2 linked regions of the Homo sapiens genome follow. The protein of the gene in region 2 purifies or fractionates together with the protein of the main gene of each other region. This does not show direct contact. Each region holds a gene or a part of one and is shown on either strand. Other genes may lie near its edges.

Evidence for each region.
Region 1: the proteins of NEBL (region 2) and NAXD purify together in Homo sapiens (affinity purification with mass spectrometry; one large-scale study listed by BioGRID and IntAct). This does not show direct contact.

The regions. Positions count from the first base shown.
Region 1 is NC_000013.11:110,628,894-110,632,714, reverse strand, and holds part of NAXD (ATP-dependent (S)-NAD(P)H-hydrate dehydratase), read right to left. Parts: intron 1-3,821. UniProt on the Homo sapiens protein: Catalyzes the dehydration of the S-form of NAD(P)HX at the expense of ATP, which is converted to ADP.
Region 2 is NC_000010.11:20,813,750-20,817,570, reverse strand, and holds part of NEBL (nebulette), read left to right. Parts: exon of another isoform or gene 1-66; intron 67-1,853; coding exon 1,854-1,946; intron 1,947-3,527; coding exon 3,528-3,632; intron 3,633-3,821. UniProt on the Homo sapiens protein: Binds to actin and plays an important role in the assembly of the Z-disk. May functionally link sarcomeric actin to the desmin intermediate filaments in the heart muscle sarcomeres.

The sequences.
Region 1 (3,821 bases), on a different chromosome or scaffold from region 2:
CTAGCTCAAGGTTTGTAAATACACCAATCAGCACTCTGTGTCTAACTCAGGGTTTGTGAGTGCACCTATCGACACTCTGTATCTAGATGCTCTGGTGGGGCCTTGGAGAACCTGTGTGTCGAAACTCTGTATCTAACTAATCTGATGGGGACGTGGAGAACCTTTGTGTCTAGCTCAGGGATTGTAAACACACCAATCAGTGCCCTGACAAAACAGGCCACTCGGCTCTACCAATCAGCAGGATGTGGGCGGGGCCGGATAAGAGAATAAAAGCAGGCTGCCCGAGCCAGCATTGGTAACCCGCTCGGGTCCCCTTCCACGCTGTGGAAACTTTGTTCTTTCGCTCTTTGCAATAAATCTTGCTACTGCTCACTCTTTGGGTCCACACTGCTTTTATGAGCTGTAACAGTCACCGCGAAGATCTGCAGCTTCACTCCTGAAGCCAGCGAGACCACGAGCCCACCGGGAGGAACGAACAACTCCAGACGCGCTGCCTTAAGAGCTGTAACACTCACCGCGAAGGTCTGTAGCCTCACTCCTGAGACAGAGACCACGAACCCACCAGAAGGAAGAAACTCCGAACACATCTGAACATCAGAAGGAACAGACTCCAGACGCGCCACCTTAAGAGCTGTAACACTCACCGCGAGGGTCCACGGCTTCATTCTTGAAGTCAGTGAGACCAAGAACCCACCAATTCTGGACATAAAAATACATGCTAAGAATAATTTAAAGTATTGAAAACTAAAGCCGTGTATATTAAATGAAATTTGAAAGCTGACAAAGCATTAGCTGCTCGCCTAACAAAGTGCTCATTTCAGCCTGTTTATGACGCACATTCCAGCCATAGGAAAGTGTGTATTTGGCTCTGACACTGGTCCGAGCATTAGCAGTGTGTCCTGAAGCCCCTTCCAGGGAGGCAGGTACCTGAGACTTCATGGAAGTTTATTATTCCCTTTATTAACAATAAAAATTCTTTGTCTGCTTGCCCTGAGTTTGGCTTTACTGTTAAAACTGGCAGGCTTTTGCTAATTCAGATTTTAGATCAGTTTCTGATTTCATGTTGCAGTATTTGGCAACAATCTGACATTTTCATCTGTTTCTGTGTTTTCTTTTAATGTATTTGCAAATAGTACTCAAAAGTGAATATTCAAACCCTGGAAAATGCAATGTTACATGGGTCTCCTAGAAAGGTTTGCAGCATCAGAGCACCCAGCGCAGAAGGGTGTCCCCACCCATGGGAAAGCAAACCTTGGTACACTAGGGAGAAATCTGGGGGCATCTCTCAAAAATTTAAACGTCCTTACTCTGATTCAGCAATGGAACTTCACCCAAAAGAGTGCACAAAACACATAGATTCAGGACACCACTGATGTTAACATGAAGAAAAAGCTGAAAACAGTGTAAATGAACTAAATACACTGTAGTAGATCCATAAATTCTGATGTGGCTGTTAAAAATAATGAGTATCCACATATCCTTCCATGAAAAAGTCTCCAGGACACACTGTTAACGAGTGTGCAAAGAGCACAGTGTGAGGACAGGTGCATTGGTCAAGAGCCTGCGCTCCAGATTCAGACAACGTGGGTTCAAAGCCAGCCCAGGAACCAGAAGACTTAATGTTGTTAGACATTCCCCCAACTGATCTTCAGTTTCAACATCATCCCTACCAAAGTTGCGGCTGCCTATTCCACAAATCAGCAAGCTGATCCAAAACTGGAATGCATGGGACCCAGGAGAGCCAAAACAACCTTAAAAAGAGCGAATTTGGAGGACTCGGGCTTTCGACGTCAAGGCTTCCTACACAGCCACAGCAGTCAAGACCGGGCAGTTGCAGGACAGCTGTACAGATCAACAAAACAGAAACAACAGTCCAGAAATAAGCCTTCACATTTAGGGTCAACGGATTGTCAGGGAGGATGACAAGTTGGGAGGAAAAAGGAGTCTCTCCAGCACATGGTGCTGCAACAGCTGGACACCCACAAGCAAAAGACTGACGCTGGAGCCTCCTCCTACCACACCAGCATCAGCTCGACATGCACCGCAGAGCTAAAGTAACAACCAAAACAATAAGGCTCTTAACATGTAGGAGTAAACCTTGGGTTAGGCAGAAGCTTCTGAGATAAGACACCAACAGCACAAGGGACAAAAGAAAAAACAGCTAAATTGGACTTCAAAATTAAAAACTGTGCTGTAAACAAAACCATCGAAGTGAAAAGACAACCTACAGAATGAGAGGATATCGGCAAATCGTCTCTCTGATAAGGAACCTGTGTCTAGAACGTATATGAAGAACTCCTAAAAGTCAATAAAAAAAAGGCAAAAAACAGTTTTCAAAGTGGGGAAAGGGTATGAATAGACACTTCTCCAAAGAAGATACCCAAAGAGGCCAGGCATGGTAGCTCACGCCTGTAACCCCAGCACTTTGGGAGGCTGAGGCGGGCGGATACCTAAGGTCAGGAGTTCGAGACCAGCCTGGCCAACATGGTGAAACCCCATCTCTACTAAAAATACAAAAATTAGCTGGGTGTGATGGTGGGCGCCTGTAGTCCAAGCTACTTGGAGGCCAAGGCAAAGGAATCACTTAAACCCAGGAGGTGGAGATTGCAGTGAGCCAAGATCACGCCATTATACTCCAGCCTGGGTGACAGAGTGAGAATATGTCTCAAAAACAAAACAAAACAAAAACAAAAAAAAAGATACCCAAACAGCCAATGAGCACATGCAAAGATGCTCAACAGCATCAGCTGCCAGGAAAACGCAAACCAAACCACAGTGAGGTCGCTCCACGCCCACTAGAGTGGCTGCTAAGTAGACAACAACAGTAACAAGTGCTGGGAACGATGTGGAGAATCAGAGCCCTCGCACACTGCTAGAGGGAATGGAAAATAGTGCAGCCGCTATGGGAAACAGTGGCAGGGCCTCAAAATGTGAAACACTTAACACCCAGGAGAGTGAAAACACATCCACACAAAAAGTGGAAACCAATTTTCCATAAATTAATCAACAGATAAACCAAAGGTGGTGTATGCATACAGTGAAATATTAGATATAAAAAGGAATGGAATACTGATACATGCTACAACACAGGTAACTCTAAATATAAAATTATGCAGAGTGACATAACTAATCACTAAATAGCACACGTTGCATAATTCCATTCATATGAAATGTCCTGAACAGGCGAATCCAGAGAGACAGAAAGCATACTAGCTGAGTGGCTGCCAGGAACTGGGGAGACTGGGGAACAGGGAGCAGATGCTAACGGGGATGGGCTGCTTCTGGAGGCAATAAACATATTCTAAGGTTGATCATGGTGATGGTTGCACAACTATGAATATACTTGAAGCCACCGCATAGTTCACTTTAAATGGGTGAGGGGTATGGTAGGTAAATCATCTAAATAAAGTCGTTTTTAAAAAACCATCTCTGCAGTTTCTTTGCTACCAGATCCCACGGGCGTCTTGAATCCTTGCCAGGACTCAATCTGTCATCAGAAGAATGGGGCTATGAATAGGAATCTACCTAATCGGGTTGTTTTCAGGCCTACACCAGATGATGACCTCATTCAGGAACGTCGACGAAGTAGGAAGCCTCTGCTCCGCACCAGACACGAGCTGGAAGCTGACGAGGAGGCGGCAGCCCACGCTAGATGACCTGAGGGCTCTCAAGACCACGGCAACAGTGTACAGGAACCAGAATGCAAGGTCCAGAGTCTGGGCTGCAGGGGCAGCGACGCACACCCTCACTTCCCACCTTTCACACTTCCACGCAGTACAGTGGTTTTTTAAGATACCAGTTTTTAAATTGTGAACTTAAAT
Region 2 (3,821 bases):
CACTATCAAATGCATTGTCCACGTGTGAATGAAGGGATTGTATTTATAGAATTTTCATAACCTTGAGCTGATGTCCTGTTCTCATTTGACTAACAACTTATTTGAAAGATTTCGGGGACTTTGGTATTGTGGGTACAGTCAGGTGTTCCCCACCTCAGGGTTCCCAGTGACTCATCAGGATGACTTTTTTCTTTTTGTTTTTTTGAGACAGGGTCTTGCTCTGTCACCCAGACTGGAATGCAGTGGCACAATCTTGACTCACTGCAACCTTTGCCTTCTGGGTTCAAGTGATCCTCCCAGCTCAACCTCCCAAGCAGCTGGGATTACAGGCACATGCTGCCACACCTGGCTAATTTTTGTATTTTTTGTAGAGACGGGGTTTGGGCTGGTCTCAAACTCCTGAGCTCATGCAATCCGGCCACCTTGGCCTCCCAAAGTGCTGGGATTACAGATGTGTGCCACCGGGCCTGGGTGACTTTTTTTGACAGGTTGTTGTGTATCCCTTCTATCTTGTCATCTAGCTGATGGGTGCTATGGTCTCCTCAAGTCCCACAGTCGTAGCTTCTGGCATCCTGGCCCTACAAACAAACATTTTCCCTCCCTTTTCTACCAGCATGTGTTCCTGTTCTTGCGCTTCCTCCGAGCCCCACTTTCCACTTCCCACAATCATGACTCCATTTTTGGGCAAAGTCTAGGAAGAAATGATAATGTGTGCATGGCTGAATAGGTTATATTGGACAGGACCATTTTGGGGGCACTTAATAAGGGGCTGGCAGTTTTTACCTAGACACCAACTTGTGGCCTGCTCCGATTCCCTGTTGTTGAAATAATTCACGGATGCAGTTCAAGAAGAAAGTCCTCTTTTACAGTCATTAACATATAGATTGGGTTCTTTGGAAGAGGAAACTTGGAAATCTATTACGTTCAAAGAAATCTTTTATTCTTCACACCTTTAAAGTCATTTTACCAGTTTATAATGCAAAGGCAGGTGATTGATACTTTTCCTAACAACTATATTTTAGAGAAGTAGACGCTCATCTTTCCCCCATATATTTAGAGTCATACTTGATGTGACTCCATTATTCTCAAAAAGGAACATGGTTATTTAGACAAGGAGTGGACCAGTGAGAAGCATGCTGGCTTTTTAAAGGATGCCCACAGTCACCTATTTAAACACATCTTTACAAAAATTCTGCCGCAGTTAATTCCTAAGAAACCACGACCATGTAGTACCAGTCTACGGTGAATACCTTTAAGTAATCTCCATGAAGACATTTATTCTCATTTCCTTTTGTGGTTAAATATTTATTACAGCTTTACGGATGGTATGCCTATGTATTCGAGTACATCCACAGTGATTTGGACACATGTACTCTCTTATGGGATGAAATGAAATAGATTGATTTAAGATGCCAGCATTTTAAATACAACTCAACCTCTGAAAATATTTTTTGTAGTTTCCTACAAAACTTCCCTGACTAACTCATTAAAATAAATACTGTGAGCCAGGCACTGTGGCTCAGGATTGTCATCCCAGCACTTTGGGAGGCTGAGGTGGGTGGATCACTTGAGCCCAGGAGTTTCAGGTCAGCTTGGACAACATGGCAAAACTCAATCTCTACAAAAATACAAAAATTAGCCAGGCATGGTGGCAGGTGCCTGTAATCCCAGCTACCTGGGAGGCTGAGGTGGGAGGATTGCCTGAGCCTGGGAGATCGAGGCTGTGGTGAGCAAAGATTGTACCACTGCACTTCAGCCTGGGTGACAGAGCAAGACCCTGTCTTAAATAAATAAATAAGTCTCTTTGTTGAATTGATTCATAGTATTCTATTTTTTGTTCTCTGAAATGATAGGTTTATTACAGAGGTCAGCTGGGAAGAGCTACCACTTTAAGTGTAACTCCTGAAATGGAAAGAGTGAAGAAGAATCAAGAAAATATTAGCTCGGCAAGTGGTTTTCTTCATTTTAGACTATCACAAAGGATGTGTCTTTTATTATTTACTTGCGGTCCTCCTTTGCTTGTGAAAATAAAACTTATTTTCAAGAAACATTTGTGATGTGTCCAATAAGTACATGTGTTATTTCAGATGACTTCCAAAAGCTGCCACTGCAAACATTTACATTATTTTGCAACTCTTTGTTATTTCCAGATGTGACCAACAGTTACATTCAAAGCTTAGGTTAAAATTATATTCATTTAAACAACGATTCATGATATGTTAGCCGTGTCTTTGAAGGTGGTAAAGCCTTTGATGTGTGCGTTAAATAATTGTCATTTTCCTGAAATATTTCATTGAACATGGATTGTTAAATGCTGTCTGCAAAACAAAATAGGAGATGGATCATTACCCCCACTAAAGACTTACAGAAAAGAATCCTTAAATACAGTTAACGTAGAATTCAGTTGCTCACCAAAGTCCAGTGGTGTACATGAGTATCTTATCTGAATATTGTGCTTCCTCTTAGTGAATATCAGGGCTTCAATTCTGAATTGTACATAATGCCCTCAGGTCCACAGTAAGTGGTATCCATATCTTACACCTAATCAGTTTCATAAATGGCGGTGTTCTGATGGGCAGTTGTGAAGAACACAGGCCCTTTTCTTAGCATACCCTGAATAGCTGTTTGCCTGAGAATCAGCATTTAGGCTTTGCAATTTACAGCTTCCTAGTGACATTTCTGTCCAGAGATGCTGTGTGTATTTAACATAAATTACCTTTAAGTTGTGGCTGCTTAGAAGAACAACTAAATTTGTTCCTCATTGTTTCTTATTCCCTAAGCAGAGAAAAAAATAAAAAGAAATAGAGTAGCTTGTATGCATTTTTTAACACTCTTATGGTAGAAAATTGGGAAATTTAGAAACAAAATAACTTTGGGTTCTATTTAATAGTTTTGGATTTTCTCTGTTTAACTTAAATATGATAACCAGTTGTGTGTGTGTGTGTGTGTGTGTATGTGTGTATGTGTGTGTTTGAGACACAGTCTCTGTTGCCCGGGCTGGAATGCAATAGCACAATCATAGCTCATTGCAGCTTTGAACTCCTGGGCTCAAGCAGCTGTCTTGTCTTAACCTCTCAAGTAGCTGGGACTACAGGCACACGCCCAACTAATTTTTTTTTTTTTTTAATTTTTACCTGTAGAGATGGGGGGTTTCACTGTGCTGCCCAGCCTAGTCTCAAATCCCAGGCCTCAAGTCATCCTCCCACCTTAGCTTTCCAAAGTGCTGTGATTACAGATACGAGTCCTCGGGCTTGCGCAGGTTTACAGACTAGATAGATAGTTACTATTGGTCATTCACACATTTGTTTAGAGTTGATAGATTTAGGTCATTTAGCAGTAGGCGGTGGAGGAGATCTTTGATTGTAAAATTTTAGGTTGCTATTCTAGAACAAAATTTAATTCACTGAAATAGTTACCTGGAAAATAATTTCAAGTATGTTGCATATGTTTCACTCATTTGTAAAGCTTAAAAATGTTACATCATGTGTTTTCTTATCATTGTCTTATGCCTACTATTTACTTTGCAGGTAAAATATACCCAGGACCATAAACAGATGAAAGGTAGACCAAGTCTGATTTTAGATACACCTGCTATGAGACATGTTAAAGAAGCACAAAATCATATTTCAATGGTAGGGTCCAACCAGATCATTCTTAAAACATGCTAAGGAATGGGCGGATCCAGTGCACGGATGGCATTACTTCACTATTAATCCGATAACTAACAAAGCATGGAAATGTGGTTGGCTTGTCTTTTGAGGGAGGGGCATTTCTAATCACACTGAAATGCAGTGGAAACATTTAGTCTAATAAAATGATTT